Linked DNA regions of Homo sapiens: region 1 is linked to region 2. The links come from fine-mapping of genetic effects on gene expression. A gene starts in region 2. The other region holds a variant in brackets. All regions are shown on one strand. Distances are between the middles of the regions.

What was found. PIP is the estimated chance that this variant, and not a neighbour inherited with it, causes the effect.
Region 1: its variant is fine-mapped to the expression of LINC02930 in whole blood (TOPMed, PIP 0.95).

Annotation. Positions count from the first base shown.
Region 1 is chr10:120,802,530-120,813,573 of GRCh38, reverse strand. It overlaps LINC02930 (long intergenic non-protein coding RNA 2930), which reads right to left. Exons shown (of 5, transcript XR_002957103.2): 3 at 1,464-1,543. The region is part of intron 1 of WDR11-DT (WDR11 divergent transcript); the gene reads left to right. Among named protein-coding and RNA genes, the nearest start is that of WDR11-DT, 43 kb to the left of the region's middle. The variant C/T (reference allele first, on the strand shown) is at 5,384.
Region 2 is chr10:120,603,000-120,614,043 of GRCh38, reverse strand. LINC02930 (long intergenic non-protein coding RNA 2930) reads right to left here and starts at 5,462. Exons shown (of 5, transcript XR_002957103.2): 1 at 5,271-5,462.

The DNA.
Region 1 (11,044 bases), 200 kb before region 2:
TAGTATCAGGGCCAAGGGAAAATTCTCCTTTACCTTCTAAAGGTTTACTGAAAATCACTGACAAGAGGGAGATTAATAAGAGAATGGACATACATATTTATTTAGTGTATTATTTAGTGTATACACGGGAGCCTTCAGAACAGAGACTCAAAGCTACAGGGGAAATTGTCCATTTTTATGCTTAAGTTCAACAACCATGTAGAAATATGATTGGACAGAAAAGGTATGATCTAATGCTAATAGCTGACTGAGTGAGGAAATCCAGCAAGGCCCGTCTGTCTAGATTCTTCTCAGCCTCTCAGAGCATGCACTCCTTCCTTCTGGGCGTGGGGCAGAACCCTCTCTCGAATGGGGCTCTTAAGACCTACAGTCAAATAACGTAGGTCAGATAATTTCTTCATGGTCCGTTTTTACACAGACAGGTGGAGGAAAAGTTAAAGTAACATTTTTAAGTTTTATGGCTGGCTTTGGGAAGAGGGGTTCTGGTTTCTATGACCTGCCTTGGGGAAGAGAGATTCTAATTTCTCTGCCTAGCCTCAGGGGAGAATGGAACTGAGAGACAGGAGAGCAGGAGAAGGTCGGAGAAAAACTTTTGCCTCTGAAGCTGCTTCTGAGGTCTGCATTTCAGGGTATTGTTTTCTGAGTCCTAGCAGTAGAAATGGTAAAAATACATTCATCACAATAATTCCCATTAGCCTTAATAGTGGATACTGTTGAGGAAAGGTAAGAAGGAAGGAAATGAGAAATGAGTTGGGGATTTAGCTGTATTTGCAACGTTTTATTTCCAAAAGTTGTGAGCCAAACATATATGACAAATGTTAGCTGTTTGCTTTTGGTGAAAGACATCATTTTTTGTACTTCCTCTGTATGTTGTAAACATTTGCATAATTAATCAAATCTTTTTTTAAAGATTATGTAAATGGCAAAAAGTTTTTACCTGTAGAATAATCTGCCTCCCCCAAAGTTATCCGTGCCCTAATCCCCAAAACCTATCAATATATATTTCTTTTCATGGCAAAAGAGACTTTGCAGATGTCATTGAATTAAGGATCTTGAGATGAGGAGATTTTCCTAGATTATCTGAGTAGGCTCAACATAATTACGAGGAATTACAGGAATACAGGCAGCCTCTCGGAGCTGGAAAAGGCAAGGAAACAGAGTCTCCTCCAGAGCCTCCAGGACAAAATGAAGCCAGATGAGACCCTGATTTTAGCCTCGTTTGACCCATATCAAACTCTGATCTCCAGAACTGTAAGATAATAAATTCGGGTTGTTTTAAGCTATCAAAGTTATGGTAATTTGTTAGAGCAGTCAGAGGAAATTAATATATTAGCTCATCCTAATTTCTGTTTTTAAAATTAAAATGAGGTCTGTAATCTGCCAGGTCTCTTAGTTCATTTGTGCTGCTACAACAGCATTCCATGGACTGAGTAATTTATAAACAATAGAAATGTATTTCTCACCGTTCTGGAAGCTAGGAAGTCCAAGATGACGGCATCCGCATTCAGCATCTGGCGAGGGCCTTTGCCGCATCCTTACATGTCTGGAGGCAGAAAGGCAAAAAGGACCTAGATGGTTCCCTGGGGCCCTTTTATAAGGTACTGGTCTCATTCATGAGGGATGGCTTCATTGCCTTCTAAAGGCCCCACTTCTTAATACTCACACATTGGGTCTTAGATTCCAACATATGAATTTTAGGGTGACATACATTCGAACCATAATACCAGGGAAATGTTCTAAGGTTTATTCACTCAACAAGTACTTATTGAACATGAGTGCTGCTATGCCCCAGACACTCTGCTGTGGACTTAAGATAGAAAAGTGAGATAAATTTGACAAAAGTGCCTGCTCTTTGGGGAAAGAGTGGGTGGAGACAAGAAATAAGAAAAAAATAAAGTTAGAATATAAATAGAATATTAGTACAGTGGTGAATGCTACAGAGACAAGAAACATAACAGGTATGGGGCTTGGGAGTATGGAGGGTGTGCTTGGGTGAGAAGTGATTACAATTTTCAGAACGGTGCCCCAGTCAGGAAGGCGACACATGAGCCAACTCTTGGAAGAGATAAAGGGAATCTGGTCATATGGATGTGCAAAGGAAGAGTGTTCTAGCAGAGGGAACAGTCACTGCAAAGCCCTAGGCTCAAGTATGCTCAGTGCATTTGTGGGACACAAAGAGGCCAATGGGGCTGGCACAGAGAGAGCAAAGGGGAGGGTTACAAGAGCTACCCCAGAGAGGAAGGAGAGAGGTGGGTTGTCAAGATGTTCCCGAAGTTAGTGGCTGCGTTTGATGTAAATATAATCCTAAAAAGCCACCATGAGTCTAAGACTGCTTTTCCATGCTAGGAATATTTATACAGTGGCAGCCATGAATGCTACGGCCTGTCACCCTGTTACTCTGCATAGCAGTGTGTGGGCAGCCCAGGCATCGGCTTGGTGTGAGGGAATCTATTTCCGATAGGGGACCCAGGGCGTTTGGGGCTGGGGCAGTGGCTATCAGCTTGCCCAGAATTATCCAGTGGCCTGAGGCAATGCTCCAGGAGTGCTTAAAGCAACTGGCCTCCTTGGCTCCCACTAAGTAATGCTGAGGTCTGTCAGTGGAATTCATTTTTCTAGCATTCGCACCAAAAGTGTCCAGGCAGCCTACAGTAAGCAACACATCACTGGTGGGGTGCCCCAGGCAGATTGGAGAAGCTGTGGCCACATAGAGTGGGGGAAAGAGCAGGGGACCTCCCTGAGCCTCAGTTTTCTCCTCTGTAAGTGGAGTGTGCTGACTCCCCAGGATTATGCAAGAGTTGGAAGAGCAAGGATGTTGGGGAAATGCTGGGCAAGCAAGCAGCAAGTGCTCAAAGGATGCTGAAGCCAGGGCTTCCCTCCCTTCTTTCCTTCTTCCTCTCCTGCTTAGCATGGTGTTGGGTCCAGGAACAAAATAATCTAGAATACAAAAAGTGTGATAGGTGAGCTGTTGGGAAGGGCTGCAGGATGGGCTGCTGGCAGCCTTCCAGCTGGGGAAGTCAGGGAGGCTTCCTGGAGGGGTGGCGGCTGAGCTGGCTAGGATCCAAATGTGAGTATTCCTCCTGGGGAAAAGCAGCAGCAAAAGCAGCCTTGGAAAGAGGAAAGCAGGGGATCCAGGGCCCTAATTCAGGGAGGGAGTTGTGCATAATAGCAGGTGTGACAGCCAACAGAGGGAATGGGAGGGAAACTGGCAGGAGGAGGGTCTGAACTTACACTCTTTACAGAGCCTCAGCTGGCTTTTGAGTTTGCACGGAGTGTAGGAAGTGAGCAAATCAATGTATGCTTTGAGAAAATTAATTTGGTATAAGTTCCTCCTGAATTTCATTGTGTTTGATATGAAAATTTAGCCTTGGGCCAGCACTGCATGGAATTTTTAAAGTGCATCACTTCACAGATTAAAAGGGGGCCCTCTGCTCCTGATACCCTTATATAGAGAGTTCTACTTAATTTTACAGAAGGGTACAGTTTAACCTGCTCTTGTTCCATGCAACTCGGAAAAATAAATTATTTAACCAAGGATATGCTTTAGGGCATTATGTTTGCCTTTTTTATTTTAAAAATTGTTTGTCCTTCTATTTTCACGCCTTTAGTTATTCAATACAGCCTTCCTTTTACTAAAATCATGTGCCTGTCCTCTTGAAACTGAAAAACTTGTCTAATGTCATAAAACCATAAGGGAAGAGTGTTCTCTGCCCCAGATTTTGGCCTATATGCCTCTTTTTTCTGTTTAGTCTTAATTGAAAGATTGTTTTATACATTGTTCTTTTTCCCCATATCTATTTTTGTTTTTTCTAGTCTCATTTCAGAACTCACTCAACCATTTCTGCTTCTCAAAGAGATGCTATTCTGTTGATAATAGAGAAATCTCCAGGTGCACTGCCATTATCTAATTCTGGGATATTATTAAGAGCATTTAATTCAAACAATCATGTTTTATTAGAAAAGAATGACTAAGTCTTTGATTGAATTGACTAGGGCATAACTATTTTAGGGTTTGTTATTAGAATTTAGAATTATCAGGCAATTTCTATGGCTGTTTGAGGTGTCTGTTTTTACTTGTAATAACGATTCTTCTAATAAAACCTTCTGTAGGATAGTGTTTTCTTCTTATTAAGGGGCTGATATGCTTTATTTAATATAATCATCTTAATGCCTCAGGAAGTTTTCTATTACTTTCATTATAAGATTAGGGAAACCCAGGCATGGGACTTATATGACTTACCCAAGCAGGTGACACCTTCACTTGAACCTTCGTTTGCATTCAGGTTTTTTTTTGTTTTTGTTTTTTTTTTTTTGAGACGGAGTCTCATTCTGTCACCCAGGCTGGAGTGCAGTAGTGCGATCTCAGCTCACTGCAGCCAGCCTCCGTCTCCTGGGTTCCAGCAATTCTCCTGCCTCAGCCTCCTGGGTAGCTGGGATTACAGGTATGCGCCACCACGCTGGGTAATTTTTGTATTTTTAGAAGAGACAAGGTTTCACCATATTAGCCAGGCTGGTCTTGAACTCCTGATCTCAGGTGATCTGCTTGCCTTGTCCTCCCAAAGTGCTAGGATCACAGGTGTGAGCCACCGTGCTGAGCCTGTCTTCAGGTTTATAAGCCAATTCTCCTTCTGTAGTTATGTTAATGCTAAGCCCATGTGTTACATGTTATCCCTGAATTTGTGAATCCCAGAAAAACTGGCTGTTGTGGAACAATTTCTACAGAAAAAGAGGGCTAGAAATGTTTTCATTGGATACTGATAACTCTGCTTCAGTGTGACCTTTAACTAAATTATAACCATTATCATTCATTTTAATAGAGTTGATGTGATGGTGGGGACCAATGTCAATCTATTATTATGAATCATTTTCTGTATCGTGAAATCAATACCTTTTCTCTCATTACTATTTGTATTATTTTGGTATTGTTATAGATAAGTGTTCCTCAGCCTCCACTCTATTAACATTTTGAGCCAGATAATTCTTTCTGTGGGGAGCTGTCCTGAGCACTGTAAATGTTTAGGAGAAGCTGTGGCCTCTACTCAGTAGATGCCAGTAGCACCTCTCACCCCAGTTGTGACAACCAAAAAGTCTCTAGGTGTTGCCAAATATCCCCTGGGGGACAAAGTCGTCCTTTGTTGCAAATAACTGCTGTTGATGATATAGGAATTAAAATATTTTATTCTCTTAAGCTATTGAATTCTCTAACCTAAACATGCATTATTAATTACTTTGAAGCACACTTACCCATTGATCCTCCTATCATCAATAAGAATCCGTTGAGAACATCTTCCAGTACAGAGAGGAACCAACATCTGGTTAATTCAAACACAACCCCTGGGATCAGGTAATTAAACATGTTCTTAACTAGCTGTCTTACCAAAATCAA[C/T]ACAAACTGCAGTTTCATCCATCTTAACTACAGAGCATGTGTTTTTCTAGTAATGTTCCTTGTCAAGCTTTTAGAGCTGAGAATTGAGAAAACAAGCCAGAATCGGCATCTTTGGTTGCATAATAAATGTGTTTGACACACATCAACCTGAGTACTCTGCAAATTTGATAATCATTTCACCAATTTTTGTGTTAGATCATTTCAAATGAAGCAACCATTTATGATGGGGTAGGAGGAAAGGAGGTAAGGGTCTAGGGAAAGAGACATACACGAGAAAGGGAGGACAAAGAATTCTGGAGGGTGCCTACATGAGGCATGTATTTCTGGATTCCAGGTTGATAGACAAGAATCAATAGGCTGTGGTTGTTAAATATACAGTCCGTAGACTAGACCATCCAGTTCACATCTCAGTCCTTCTACTTATTAACGATGAACTTGAGCAAGACATTTACATTTTCCCTGCCTCACATCTTATGGTGTTGCTATCAGGATTAGTGAGTTGAAAGAAATAAGGCACATAGAAGAGGAGCCAGCAGATAGTTGCTTAATGTTACTTGTTATCCTTAAAACAATATAGATAGCTTTGCATATAGAACTACCCGTCGACACAGAGCTGGAGAGAGGCAGTGTGTGGTCTGGTGGCTTGGGTTTGGAGCTGAGCCCTGCCATTCATTGCTGGGTGACGTCTGGACCTTGGTTTTGTCGGCATAAGTTGGTTGTAAAGATTAAATGAGAAAAGGCAGGTAAAGCCCCTGGCGAGGGGTCTGGTACAAAAAGCAATAAATGCCAGTTTCTTTCCCCAGGCTTGAAGACTGATGCCTAATTCTGGCTGGTTATGAGACCCAGGAAGATTACTTAAAATCTCAGATCCTCAGTTTTCACATCCATGGACTTACCAGATCGATCTTTCCATCTGTCCATTCAATAAATTTCATTCAATCATCACTAAGTTGGCCCAGACTAAGTCCTGGAAATCTTTAAATCCCTCATTTAAAAAATATGGAGAATTTCAAATGTCTGAAAAACAGATTATGCATAACCAACCCCCATTTACCCACCACTCAATTCGAGTAAGCCACCTTTCAGCTTTAGACTTCAGAGGGCCCTTGAGTTAGGATGGCATGGAGGGTGGAATAAAAATATCAGGGGGTTTCTGTTAACTCCAAGTTTAATACGAGTTACCAGTATAATGTGGCTATAGCCCAAACTAATAACTCCCCTTAGCCTACGTTAAAACAAGCATCACATTTAGAATAAAGGCGATGATGCTCTTCTCTTACAAGCTGCTCAGGCCTGTCCTGGAGTTTTCCGTTCTGTTTCCTCATCACATTCAAGAGGCCCCTACATCAATAAGAAAAGGTCAAGAGGAGAAACAGCAGGATTGTTACACAGCTGGAAGCCATGAGTACTGATTATCATTGTCACTTATTAAGCTCCTGCTGTTTGCAAGCTGTATGGCAAGTGCTTTCTATAAATTATTGAATTCTCATAAACACAAAAAAGTAGATGTTATTGCTTTCACACCATTTTATGGATGAGACAGAGTATAAGATGAAACTGAGTAAAAGAAAATTTGAAATTCATCTCGTTCACCCAGTAGGTCACTGAGCAGAGACTTGAACCCCAGCAGTCTGGTTCCAGGACCCACATCCTGAGCCCTACACCCCAGCCCCAGGAGGCTTAACCTAGAGAAGAGAAATTGAGCTCCACAATCTTTCTTCAAATTCCTTGGAAGGCTGTCTTGTGGAAGCCCTCTTTGATGGACTTTGTGTGGCTCCAAAGGGCAGATGCAGGTTCTAGGTGTAGCAGTAACAGGCAGTGGGTTTCATTTCAACACAAAGTGCTTTTTATTCCTTAGCGCTATTCAGCACACATGTGGCTTGGGAGGCAGTGAGTTCCCTGTCACTGGAGATGTGCAAACAGTGGGGTAGTGTGGGAAGCAGGAAGAGAACAATCAGGCAGATCTGATTTGCAACCTGATTCTGTCACTTACTAGCTTGGCGGCTTGGACATAATACTACTTCTCTGAACCTCAGTTTCCTATCTGTAAAATGAAAATACTTAACTTAAAAGGTTGTTTTGAGAATTAGAGATGCTATTTACAGAGGTCCTGGCTCATGATAAATACCTAATAAATGGCAGCCTTGTTTCAAATTTCTGCATAAACTCATGCATCTGCTGGGGGGTTGGACTGCTTCCCCTCTAGGTTCTGTGCATCGCTCCATCCTGACTGACACCCAGGAGTCTTGGCTTTTTAGGATTGACTCCAAAATGGCTTTATCCATCACTGCAAAGTGAACATTTTGCAATCCTCATTAGATGCATATTCTTATTAACTTTTCTCTGAAATCATCCTTTACTGTGTCATGAACTGAGAAAAAGAAGGAGCAAAAAGAATAATGGTTAAGGTCTCCATCTGCTGCATCTTGGTTTACAGCAAAAAAGGCCGTGCATTACCCAACCTTGGGAGTATCTATTTTTAAGCAAGCTAAATTTGCTTACATTATGCAGGATTGCATGGAAATGTGGACTTGAATGTCTGAAGTTTGAATGTTGAAGTATCTGGGGGCTGTGCTACGCTGGCTTGGCTTCCCCAGGCACTTGATGTTGGGTGGAGGAGTGTGCAGAACTGCAGGAGAGGAGCAAGCATCATCTGTAACAGTACAGTGTTGGCCAACCCAGCTTTTACTTCGTCATTCATCAAAACGTTCGCTGTTTCAAACTATTTGAGTCCCAAAGAGAATACGTCATCAGCATTGCCCTCTAGCATGCTACAGCAGGTCATAGGCCAGTGGGTTTCCTTATTTTTAAGGCTGTAGAGCCCTTTTCTTCTGTAGAGCTCTTTTCTTTCATGGATTGTCCCAAGGGACACTGGTAGGTAAGACAGGTGAAAGGGATACCCTTTGGGTTGAAGTTGGGGTGGGGAACTGGAGGTTGCAGTCTGTTGGCCCCTTGACCACCCTCAACAGCTCCTCCTAGTGGTCTGGAGGCATCACCTTGAACCTCTAGGGCCCCTGGAATCCAGATTGACAACCAGTTGGACACAGCCATTTCAAATCCCTTTCTTGTTTTAAGAGGCTTCTTTGACTGCCACCTTTTACACACAGCAGGTTTGCAAGCCCTTCTAGCACCCACAGATGGTAAGAAATTGGAGGGACTTCCCTGCTGACTTGGTCGTCAGAGTCAGCTGAGTATAACACAGACCCTATTTTGAACCCAGTCTTTTAATGTTGTTTAATGAAACAGAATAATTTTACTTTGTTTTGCTTTCTAAGCTTTTTACTGAATTGCCATTATTTTCAAAATGGATGTTAGTGGAGGAGGTGGTAATACAATAGCTACCAGCATTTATTGAAGGAAAATAAGGAAATAATTGTTCACTTGACATTGCCATGATTTTAACGGTTTGGGGAAAGGCCACCAGAAACAGAGTTTTGAGTGTGCTAATGATTCTGCCATGCCTGGGAAGCTGGAGGAAGCTCTTATGGACACTTGAATGATCCTGCTTAGACCCCAAAGCATCTAGACCAGGGCCTGGCATACAGTGGGTGCTCAATATGCATTGACTGGATGAGAATGAACCCAGGGTACCAGACACATTGTAGCTTCATGGCGCTGTCCCGCACATTGCAAAAATGTAACTCCAGTTTGTGCCTCTTAGGATTTCACTGATCAGTTATTTCCCCCTCTCTTCTGGCAGAAAAGGAAGAGGCAATATAAGATAGGATACATTTACATTTTTAATTTTCTTTTAGTAAAACAGCTTCTTTTAAGCAAAGACAGTTTGGTGGTAGCACAAGTAGATGCTGCAACCAATTAGTGAGATGACATGAAGTAAGATAGAAAAAATGTAGATTTAATTGAAGAAAGTTGCAATATAAAATCAAGCTGCCAGCCTTTAAAATTGTAATTAATTTTAGGGGAAGAAAAAGCTCATCGAATCGCTCTCACTGCTTTCTCACTCAAGTGTTTGCGCAACCGACTGTCTCATTTAACTCTTCCTTCCTGCAAGCTGCTCTTCCAGACAGCTTCTGATCCATGAGAAATACTCCTCTCTAGGAGACGGTTTTATGACTCAGTGGATTCACAGAAGCTCTTTCCTCTGAAGATGTTTTTAGTGACCTCCAAAGGATGCTACATCATAAATTCTGACAGAAGACATGAAATGTGACAGTGGACATGATCAGGCTGGTAACTAGCATCCCAGGTCTATCTGGGGTCATAAACAATGGCGCTGTTGGAAATGATGAAAAAGGAAACTGTCGGCTAATGAGATCAAACATCCAGTCAAGGCAGGCATTAACCCACCTGCTTATGAGGTAGTTGGCACTTTCTAGATTTCCACGAAACAATGAAGGAAGCAGAGAGAGGGAGAAAGGATTCAAGCAGAGTCTAAAAATTCCTCCCATAGTAGCCAAATCTCTTCTAACTCAGCCTCACCAGTGCTTGATATCCCACCATTATAAATCCATATTGTAGTTGATTTCTCCAGGTATCTTTTTGTATTTTTATTTTTTGAGACAGAGTCTTGCTCTGTCGCCCAGGCTAGAGTGCAGTGGCACGATCTTGGCTCACTGCAACCTCTACCTCCCAGGTTCAAACGATTCTCCTGCCTCAGCCTCCCAAGTAGCTGGGATTACAGATGCCTGCCACTGTGCCTGGCTAATTTTTGTATTTTTAGTAGAGACCGCGTTTCACCATGTTGGCCAGGCTGGTCTTGAACTCCTGACCTCATGATCCACCCACCTTGGCCTCACAAAGTGCTGGGATTACAGGCATGAACCACCATGCTCGGCTCCAGATATCTTTTTAGAAATACTCTGATCTGAAAAGGCACCTCTGTATGCTAGTGTGAGTTAATTGATCAGATACATTTCCTCATTGGCAATAGAGATAGAGGCAAAGGGGAGCTTTGAGTAACAGGACCTCGATCAAACCTCTGTGTGCCCACCTTGTGATTGTCTTCCAGTGTGTGCTGAGTTGTATGACAAATAATGAGACAATGGGAAAGCTACTCTAGAAGGCTCTGTTCTCTTTGTATGGGCAAATAAAGCAGAAACCTAACTCACAGGCTCCTTTCTCATGATCACTATTTGCACAACGCTCTGCATAGTGAGGGATGTTATGTCCTTTAATCCTGACTACAAAAGGCAAAGAATCTGTATTGTAAGGAAACAAGGGAGCTGGAGCATGTGCAAAGAATGTTCACTTCCGGCAATAAGTGGGTCTTAAGATTGTGTTTAATTCTGCTTGAAAGTATTGTGGGCATATAATTTTCATTTCTGAAATGTTGTCCTCATTTCTCACCAATCTTTAATGCGCAGAGGCTAATGATTTTAAATTTCACCGTTCTTGCCCTTGAGCTTGTCAGTGAAATAACCTACCATGAAACTTGTCCATGTTCTGCTGCCTGAAGAATCCTTTAGCAAAGTACATCCTAATACTCTAATTGATCGATTGTTTAAATTTTTGCTTTAATACATAGGCATATTTAACTCAGCAAGGAAACAAGAAGGATAGGTAATTGGATGTCTTTTTCTTTTTTAATGTAAACTTTCTTTCTCCCAGGAGCACACACAACCAGGAAATTCTGAAGGTGAGCAATGAATGAGCCAGGGCTTGTTTTTCATAAATGTTTATAAAATCTATAGTGATATCACC
Region 2 (11,044 bases):
GATGCTATAACGTTCTTTAATCAGCCTTGAGAATTGCAAATACAACCTAGAGATGGAACCAGGACTTACCTTCCTCAGAAAGATCAAAGGAATCCAGCATTTGTAGCTGAAACTGCAAACAACTAATAGTCATCATACAATTCCATTTGACTGTAATTAATATTTATTACTTTTACTGCTTCATGACTTTTCCTCAGGCTTGTTTTAATCCTTTCAGCAAACTTCCCTTTATTCTCCTCCATCAAACAATTTTCAAGTTCCTGCCCCAGCTTACATAGAGAGAATGACACTTCAGTGGCCCACCCACTTAAGAATAAGCCTCAAGAACAAAATATATGCTGGCAAGAAGCCATACATCCAAGTAAGCATCCTGGCACACATGATATAACAAGCCTAGAGGGGAGATAGGCTGGAGCTGAGCTTGAAGGCTAAAAAAGCTGATGGAGAAGTCAAGTAGGATCTTCCTGAATGGGGGACTGGGGAAGGAGTTAGCTAAGAAAAGCAATGGAGCTAGGGTTGAGGGTGTTCACTAGCCATAGACAATTGCTTGCTTGGCATAATTTGACAAGTCTCATCTAACACCAGTCATTCCTATTGTCCTTCCCTGCTGCATAAAGATATCATTATTCATTTGAATCATGTCTAGGCTAAGGATCCAGGATCTTGGGAGGAAATTACACAGTCCATATTCATTTACTAGATCAAGATTAGCAACTGTCGTCATCCCTCAAAAAAAGGAGGAGGGAGAGGGTCAGGAAAAATAACTAATGGGTACTAGGCTTAATACCTGGGTGATGAAACAACCTGTCCAACAAACCTCCACGACACAAGTTTACCTATATAACAAACCTGCACGTGTAGCCTGAACTTAAAATAAAAGTTTAAAATAAAAAAGAATAAAAGACTGCTTCAAAACAACAAATAAACAAAAGTAAGTCTGGGTCAAGGATGAGTCAGTATTGATAATGGGAAAGGGAAGAAGTGTTTAAGCCCAGCTTAGAGGGTTATCGGTGTGAGAGTCCTAGACAGGGAAAGCCAGGCCATGCCCAGACTACACGTCTCTATTATTCTTCCCCATGGTGGACTTATTTATATGAATGTCTTGCCACTGAGTTACAATCTCCTCTCCAACCCCAACCTCCAGGTCCTGTTTCTATTCAACTATGTAATGTTTGATGAATTGTTGGCAGCAGAAACAGTGCAACATGTGTATGCAAAGACTAGGAAATGAAGAACTTCCATTTCTGGCCATGACAGAGTAGCTGGAAGCTGATATATTTTCCCATCATAAATTACTAGAAAACTAAATAGAATATATAAAACTGCTTTCAGGCATTGGACAACAGGTAGCATTAAGAACATAGTCCCTGAGAGAAGATAAATAACAAGGTGAGCCCCACAACCACTCCAGATTTCTGCCTGGAGGCACCTTCCAGACCTCAGTGCCCAAAGCGATGCCAAGGAGAACACAGCAGTCTTTGTGAATTGACAAGACAGGGATCATAGTTTAGAGAGACTGAGGCAGCTTTGTGAGGTAGTATACTGGAGAGGAAAAAAACGTACAAAGAAAAAGCTCCAGAAATCTGCATGGGTGTCTCTATGGGTCTCTGACTGAAAACTGAGCTGTGTATTTTCAGAGTAAAACTCCATAGAACTGGTCAAAGAACTGCTACCTGTAAGCTGTGAGCTGAGCAATTCCCAGAGCTCACGCAGGGATGCAAGATAGTTTAGCTCCAACCAGCCAGAGTAGAGAGACCTGGTTAAAATCCCAGAGCATTTAGTAGAGACTTCATGAGGGCCATGCCATTGTACTAGCCCTACAGACTACTTTAGGACCACTCTAATAAAGCTTAAAAACAAACCTCAAAAACAAAACAAAACAAAAACAATTTGATGCTCAAATAACAACTTTCTGCCAGAGCAAAGTCTAACTCTCTTTAAAGGATGACAACAAAATCCAAATACTCAACAAAGTAAAATTTACAGTGTTCAGCACCCAGATAAAAATTACTGTACAGGCCAAGAAACAAGAAATGATAGTCTATACAACCAGGAGAAAAATTAGGCTATAGAAACAGAGACTCAAAACCAAAATCCTTAGGTATATTTTTGTCTCTTTTTCAAATTCTTCTTCTCAATTAGCAATTGATTTTACCCCTGTCAAACTCTATAAATATGAAGTCACTCATGTTTATTTCTCACTTAATGTGCTTAACAGCTAATTAACAAGATGTTTACAGAAAGTCCTTAGAGACCAGTAGACGGTCTCTGCCTTGGAAAAACCAAAGGCTGGGCTTGCTTGGATGAGAGGAGAAAAGCTTCTCACCCATGACACATGAAAATAACTAATACTTGATGAATTCCTCCCAGGGACTTAAGGTGCCCATCTCCTTTCCAGCCCGTATGAACTTTTTGAAAGTGTATCTCATCCTCACTTCCCCAACCCACACCTATAGTGATTTCAAAGTAAAAAAGTAAGAAAACCAAATAGCAAATATTGACAAGCTCCCAGAAGAAAGTAGAGAAATGCAAAATTGAGACTCTTACTTGGATCATGCCTTGGTTTTCTCTAGTATGCCTGGGGAGTTATGCCAAATTATTTCCTTGGCTTTAATAAGCACATTAAAAAGTGACCCAACATTCTATAACTATGATTTTATAAATAGCTACCTAGGACAACCTGAAGAAAGTGGCCGTCACCATGTCCATAGAATATATTGCCCCAAGAACAGGTGGAAGGAGAAAATGTTTTCCATCAGAACCTTTAAACAGTAGCTTAGATTTTGCTTAGCTTCCTAATAAATGTGATTAATGCAAATGTAAGCCTTTATTTTAAATGTAATCATCTCTGCCCCTGCACACAAGGCTCTTTACATGGAGAGTTAGGTGCCAAAGCAACTCTAACCATAAGAAGGAAGCTTGTTCATTCTCAGAATATGCTGAAGCTCACTGAATTGCAGAACTATACAATAGCTCCAAATGTTATTATGCCCATATGTCCAGGAGTTTAAGTGGCTTCTGCAGTGCCTCTTACTCATGTCATTGTGTGGGTGGCAGTGTTCTGGCCAACAATGACCATGGGATTGAGCATCTTGTATAATCATCTTACTAGGTTCTGAGAGTTATCCAGAACTGACAGCACAGGGCTGCTTACAGATGCTAATTAGAAGGGCAGCTCAAGTTATTTCCTAGATAATGAGGGGAAGTGTTTGTGATTTAACTTCTACCTACTATTGTTCCCTGTGGAGTTTTTGGAGGGAAGTAATTGCCTCATTGCTGCAAAGTGTTAACTTGGTTTGTGCTTTGTTCTTGCTGCCATAGCTTTTTCCTCCTCTGAACTCTGCATGAGTCTAAGGGTTATTTGTTCCCAGTGGCTTCAGATTCTTCCAGGTATTCTATTAAGATGACTGCTTAATTTCCAAGAGTCGAATGTGAAACATAGAATCTCAGTAGTTAGTCTAACATTTTCCTCAATGTTTAAATTCCCTTGTCAACGTACCCTATATGTGTTTGGTCTCTGCTGGAAAGTCTCCAGACAAGAAACTCACTACTCACTGGCAAGCCCATTTCTCTATTAAGAAAGTTCTTAAAACTGAACCAAAGTCTCTTTCCTACTCATTGGTTCTAATCCTTCCTCTGCCATGCAAGAAATAAGCCTACTCAGTTTCGTATATCATAGCTCTTGATGTGTTATACTCTGCTCAAACCCAGCAGCCACTCCCAACGACCTGTCAAATCCCGAGTGTCCTTTTCTCTAGCCAACGATGCTGCAATAGAATTCTGACTCTCTGGGTTTCTTTTTCTTTTTTGCTCTCATTATTTCTCTGATTAAGAGAAATTTTCCTCCATTCTTCCTTCCTTCCTCTTATTTTCTTCTTTCCTTCCTCCCGCCTCCCTTTCCCTATCTCTCTCTTCCTGTTACAAAACATATACAATTTAAAAACATTGTTCAGAAACACCATCACATGCCTCCACAAGTCTCTGCAGTCTCTTTGGTAGTACTAGACCCAGATCTGGTCCTCATAAGCATTGCTTTCTTGCTCCATAAAAAGAAAATCTCAGGTCCTATTTGTCTGTGAAATCATGGTAAAAAGTTATCTTTGGGGTCTTATTTTTCCCAGAATGCCAATACTGGTCTACTGAACCTAGACCTCATCTTTCCATTTCGTGACACAACTGCTTTCTTCTGAGCACAAAATGGAGCTGAGAGTCAAGACAATTACGCGATTACATTCAGATGACAAACTTTTTGGTCTTAGCATTTGATAGAAGAAAAAATATTTTATTAACATAAAACTTGCTGATGGGTATCCAAAGCCTCCACTTCATCACACACAGTGCAGACATGGCCTTTGAGTGCACACCAAGCTTAGTAACCTCCTTGCTCACTAAACTGTGGTGCTTCTCTTTTCACAAACATAAGCTGGGATCTTAGCAATTCCCCATCTGTCCACAGGTGAATATGTTATTTGAGAGAGGAGGCAGCTGCTACAACTCTTCATGGAAAACCAACATTGTAATTGCAAAAATAATTTGCAAATGATATTTCATGTGTTGCATTATTGCTTGTGATACTGATGGTTTATTAACCTACTTTCTTCTTATTTCTATGGGAAAACACAAAGACCTCATTTTTCCCTCAGATCACGTCAAAGTTAGGATGGATTTAAATGTACATTTATTTATTTATATACAGATATTCAGATAAGTTGGACAGCCACATCCCTACATTTTCTAAAATGACATAATGGGCATCAATAACAGGGTAAAATTGTGGCTCTGAGCCATCAGACAGAAACTGACGTTGCAGCCCAGCTGTGTGTACACAAACACTCAGGCTGATGAAGGAAGGCCACGGAATTCAAACCAGCACATCTTGCTGCTTTGCATTCAGCCTGCATCACCCGGGACAGAAAAACAGTGTGCTAATGAGAGAAAAAGTTGAACAACATAGAGTTCCTCTTTACAGGTTCCTAACATTATCTGGACAAACTGAGTGTTAGAGCTGGCCCGAGGGCTGATGGTGAGCAAGGGAACCGTCCAGGAGCAAATGAAACTGTCACGAAGGAAATGCCAGGCTCAGATAGACCCCACTCAGGAGGAAGGAAACCAGTGAGAAGGGAGGAAGGGGACCCCATCTCTGTTTCAGGACTTGGACTCATGGTTACTGTCCCTTGCTAAGAGCAATGTCCATTCTGTTCAGTCACGTGGGATGCAAACTCTAAACAAACCTTGATGAAGAGGAAAAGAGAATGCATTGGCTCAAGTACCTGAAAAGCCCAGGGCAGGGCTGGTTTCGGGCTTGGCTGGATTCAGAACCCAAGTGATTTCAGGAGTTCACTCCCTCCATGTTTTGCCTCTGATTCCTCTGCCTGGGATCCACCCAGAAGCACCTTCTGCAGTAAGATTGCTGGAGCTGTCCAGGTTCCCCATTCCATCCTCACAGCAACTCTAGCCAAAAGAGAGTTTCTCTTTTTCAGTGGTTTCCATTGAAACCATAGAACTGAGTCTCAGTAGCTCTGATTGGTCAGCTGTGGGCCACATGTTCATCCCTTAACCAATCACTATGGTCAGAGAGATATGGTATTCTCATTGGCCAGGCAGGGTCACATGCTCATCTCTGAAGCTGAGGTGGGGTCAGCCCCACATTGATCACTTGAACAGGGGAAGACTGAATCGTTATCAAAGAAGAGTTGAATTCTATCAAGGGGCCAGGAGTGTAGGACAGCAAACAAAAACAGGTAACCACCTCAGGTTAAAAAACTGCCTGAAGGGAGGGGTCACGGTTTACAGATGGCAAGGAAATCCTAGATACAATGCTAAATAGTGGCTTCATTAGTCATCATCCCACTTGTATCCATGCAGGCTAACAGATTCTGTCATGGATTAGGGCTCTGCTCTTACCAGCCATCATTCTGACCATGCCCACTGTTGAGGACTATGGCTCCCAAGTTGGTCTTGCCATGAGATTTTAAAAGCATGAAATTATCAAGGACAATTAGAATGAATTTGTCTTCATCATCAGCCAGTCAGAAGTTTTGAGAACTAATAATGCTTAAAATCTATAGTGATCGCCTTTAATTATTCTTTCAGCCTGTAAGTTTTCACGTTTTCTTGGCTGACTTTTAATAATGAAACCTGCTGACTTTTAATAGTGAAACCACTGTTCTGACTCATTATTTATATCAGGTGTGTTTCCAATGTGAACTTATAAAGTGGTAGACATTTCTTGGTTATTTTATGTTTTGTTAAAAGTATCAGGGATCATTATGTCTAAGTTTGTTAATTACGTTGATACTTCTCCCAAGGGTTCCATTACTCTCAATGTCAGACAACTGGGAGAAGTTGTTCTGAAAGTCATAGACAGCAGACAAGAGCCTTTTAACTGATGTATTCATTTCTTTAAGAGGCCATGAACTGGCAGTGTCTTCTCTCTGGAATCTCTGTTAGTCATTCCTACTGACTCATAGCAATTCGCTCTCTGAGCAGAAGTTCCCATGAGAGAAGACCCCACTAGATGGTGATGTCAACTGATGGAAGAATTTTGGATGATGTTTACAAAGCAAGGAGGTCTTGTGAGTCTCACCAGCAGGCCAGTGTCAAGTGGAAGAGGCCAGGCCTGGCTGTTGGCCATAGGCTTGGCTGGAATTGGCAAAGGTGCCATTTTAACTTCCACACCCTGCTCATGGCTACCCACTCTACTCCTAACCAAGCTATTTATACCACAAATGCCTGACTACAGATATGGGGACATAAGTGAATGAGAGAGAAAAAGAACGAGAATGGGAAGCATTTTCCCACTTGTGCCATTACAACTGGTCAGGTCCCCAAGCATTCACTTGTTGTCTTCTCTGAGTCTGACAGCCACTCTATGAGTTAGATAGGGCAGGTATTGCTGCCATTTTACAGATGAGGCTTGTCCAGGATCACACAGCCATCTTGGATCCACTACCCAGTAGAGCCTGTGGAATCCATCTCAAAGGGATTAAAAGGATTGAAAATCTGCCCTGCAGATACTGATCAGTCAAGACTTTCTGCATGTTCAGGACAGCTACTGTTCTTTCCTCTCACTATTTCAAATAGCTCAGTCTCAAACTCTAGGCTGATTTGAAGCCCTTGCCTCTTCTCTCTCCCAAAGAGTCAAAAGATATAGTAGCCAGGGAGCCCTTGAACATGCTCCTCCCAACAGCAGCCCGGAGTTCATGCAAGTGAAAGGCTTTGTGAAGACATCAGCCACCCTCTAGCAGATTATTTTATAAATCAGATAAGCCAATTTTTTTGTTTCAATGTCTTCACTTTTTTCTTCTCTTGTTTATTTGTCCAGTTAGTCACTCTCTCGGAGGTAAATTGCATTCCCTCCTGGGGCCACTAGTGTCCCAAAGGAAGAAGAGTTTGTGAACTGTGCTAATAATGCTACGGTATACCTAACCCAAACCCTGCCCTACGTGCTCTTTGCCACATGACTCAGATCATTGGTTGGTCTTCTGTGAGCCCTAGATCTTTCTTTTTAAAGTGTTAAGCCACTGTATTTTCAGTCCAATTTCTAATCATGGCTTTTACCCATTGTTAGTCAAAAGTAGAGAAGAGTATAAGGCCTTATGAGAAACCCGTGTCCATGGTGTTTAGAGAAGTATAGAACTTCAGAAGTCATCCAGTTCAAAGCTTTACGGTGGGTAATCACTAACAATTTCCTTCTCCAAGATTAGTCAGTAAGTAATAGTGAAAATAAGAGCCAGCTTCTCAGGTACTTGCCAGGGGCCAAGCACTTTTTCTAGATATTTTAAATGAATTGATTCATTTCATTTTCATAGTAACTTCCTCATTATCACCATGTTACAGATGAACAAACTGAAGGTAAGAGAATCTAGGTAACTCACCCAAAGCCACATAGTACAGCTGGGATGTAAATCTGTGGGTATGAACCTGTGTTTGAGCTATGATTTGCATAATTCTGGAGCTATTACTCTCACCCACTCAGCTATACTTTTTCAACCAAAAGAAGAGATTAAGCTTATGTATTTCTGTGTGTGTGTGTGTGTGTGTGTGTGTGTGTGTGTGTGTGTGTATAAAAGCATGTATAATAGGCCCTCCCTGCCTCCTTGCCCAGCTGAGGGCCTGGGGGAGGGAGAGACCCAGAGCACAGGACAGCAAAGCTTCTCATTCTTTTTGATTCTCTTTCAGCAGCAAAGATAGAACCTGAATTAATATCTCAATAAATGATCCTTCCCTCCATGGACCAGCCAACGAGCACTCAGCGCTATTCACTCATCTTTTAGCTGGTGTAGGGGACAAGGAGATATGAGTGTGAAGATAATTGTAAAAATTTCAAAGGTTTTTGTTTCTTACTGAAATGACAAAGCTTGAGAGGTTCCTCCCTCCAGTCTCAGGATAATGAGACAGCATTTGCACACTTAAAGAGATTTTTCTCTCTTCTGAATGCTATTGTGTTCCACAAAAAAGCTCTGCTCTCAGTGTAGGGGAGGCTGATGAAGTTTTACTGTAGCCAAACAGGCAGCCTGATAATATGACAGGACGACAGAGAGAGACAACAGTGACAGACAAACAGAGAGGCAGAGAGGTGCTGGTAGAAGAATGAGCAGAGAAGTCAGAAACACACTGTGATGTATAGAGACAGAGAAAAGACACCCCAAGGACATAGAGACCAAGGCAAAACCACAAAAGAGAACATAGCCAGAGTTAGAATGCACCAGTGCCCAGCTGTACATTAAATATGCTATCATTCCCCAAACTTAACTCATTTCAAATTAAAGAATAGCTATACTACTTAGGCCCCTTGGGGAAAAAAAAATTAATTGAGTGGGCTATCATATTGCAAACCTGCTTCCAGGTAGGTATCTGGCCACTCAAAGCAGTAATATATTTACTATCTGTTGCCCACCCTCCATCCCCAAACACCCCTCTGCATGCATTTGGTCTCTCAGAACCTGTCTGGTGTTGGTTTAAAAGCTGCCATGGCCTCTTTTTTTCTGGCCATTCTGGCAAATGTCTCTTAGTTTGCAAGTGTGTTTTAATCAATGGGCCTACAGCTCCAAGTGTGCAACTGACAGCTTCTTGAAAGATCTTTGCAAATCACATTGGAGTAAATAATCATATGAGAATGGATTGGGGTGTCTGCTTTATAAATGAGTATGATAGCCAATACTTAGGTTAAAAAAAATAAAGAAGGTTTTTGTTTGGTTTGTTGGTTTGCTTTGTTTACTGGAAAAATGTCATTCAAGGTATCTGGGTTTGGTTGATTTGTTGTTGTTGTTTTTGCTTCTCTCCCCACAGCCCAAATGAGACAGCTTTGAACTTCCTGAAACACTTTTAGAAGAACAAGTCTTCTGTATCCTATAAGAAGGAAAAGACAGTAGAATTTGTTTCCAGATTTTATCTAACATAAGAAGGCCCTCAGGGAACTGTAGCATAATTGGAATGATGCGGCCCCAGGTATCAAGAGTTCTCTCTTTTAGCCATCAACTTGGGTAAGGAGCCTAAACTTGGCAAGCCAACCTTATAGGGATAATGGCAACAACAAAATAACATGATGTACCCATTCATTAATGCGGAAATATTAATATATTGAAGGCCCCCTCTGGGGACAGGGCTATGAATGAGACAGAGGGGATCCCTGCTCCCAAGAAGCCTGCACTCTAGAGAGGGCAGAAAGGAAATATATATATATGTATTAGTACAGTAGGGCTGCCGTAACAAAGTGCCAAAAACTAGGTGGCTTAAACAACAGAAAAGTACTGTCTTGCCATTCTGGAGCTGGAAGTTCAAGATCAAGGTGTTAGCAGGGTTGGTTCCTTCTGAGGGCTGTGAGGAGAATGAATCTGTCCCAGGTCTCACTCCTTGGCTTGTAGATGGCTGTCTTCACATCGCCATGCTTCTGTGCAGATCTGTGTCTAAACCTCCTCTTCTGAATAATGATGCCAGTCATGTTGGGTGAGGGCCTGCCCTAATGACCTCATGTTCACTTGATTACCTCTGTAAAGGCCTTGTCTCCAAATAAGGTCGCATTCTGAGGTACTGAAGGTTAGGACTTCAACATACAAATTTTTGGGACAGGGACAATTTGACCCATAAGAATATATGAATAATATAACTGTGACATGAAGGAACTTAGGAAAATACAATAAAAACTAATTGTGTGTGTTGGGGGAGGGGGGAGCCGTCACAGTGACGGCAGGGCTCAGGAGGTGGCATTGAGGCTGAGGCCTGAAGGAGGAGAAAGAACTAGGTGAGGGAGAGCCATCCAGGCAGAGGCACAGCAGCATGGTCAGAAACCGCTCAGCTGGTTTTGAAACCGTTCCCCAAAAAACTTTATAAAACTGATTAAAGGAAAAAAGAAAAAATTCAACTAGACTAGCAACACAATCAGCAGAAATCACTAAGCCAGCTTGCCCTTTGGCCCACTTCCTTGTAGCCGGTCGCTGCTCACAACCCCAGAATAAGGTAGCCCTCCTCACAAGGCTCTTTGTTCTACGGATAAAATCTAAGCGTTTCCCCTTTAGATTCTGCAAACTGACAAAACTATCCATCCCCCTCCTCTGAAGGGCCCACTAAGCAGCTGACTCCTGGAAGACACAGTTTCCACATCCTGATAATTTCACTCCTTTACCGGACCAATCGATGACCCCGTATTTACCCCGTATTTTCCAGCCCCTCATCCTCCACAATCCCCTTAAAAACTCTTGCCCAGAACTCCTCAGCAAACAGATTTGAAGCTGGGAATTCCTCCCGTTTTCTTGTTCAGCGGCCTTGCAATTATTAAACTCTTTCTCTGCCGCAAACCCTGCTGTCTGAGTATTGGCCTATTGCTGCACAGTGGGCTGGTGAACCCGGCAGTTTAGCAACAGTTTGATGTGCAAAAGAGAGAGAGTCCAGATGAAAATATACAGTGATGTGGATGGATGAATCTTAAATGAGAAAAAAATCCAAACCCAAGGACAACATCTTGTATGATTGTATTTATATGACATCCTAGAAAAGGCAAAAATCAGACAGCAGAAAGCAGACCTAGGGCTGCCTGGGGCCAGGG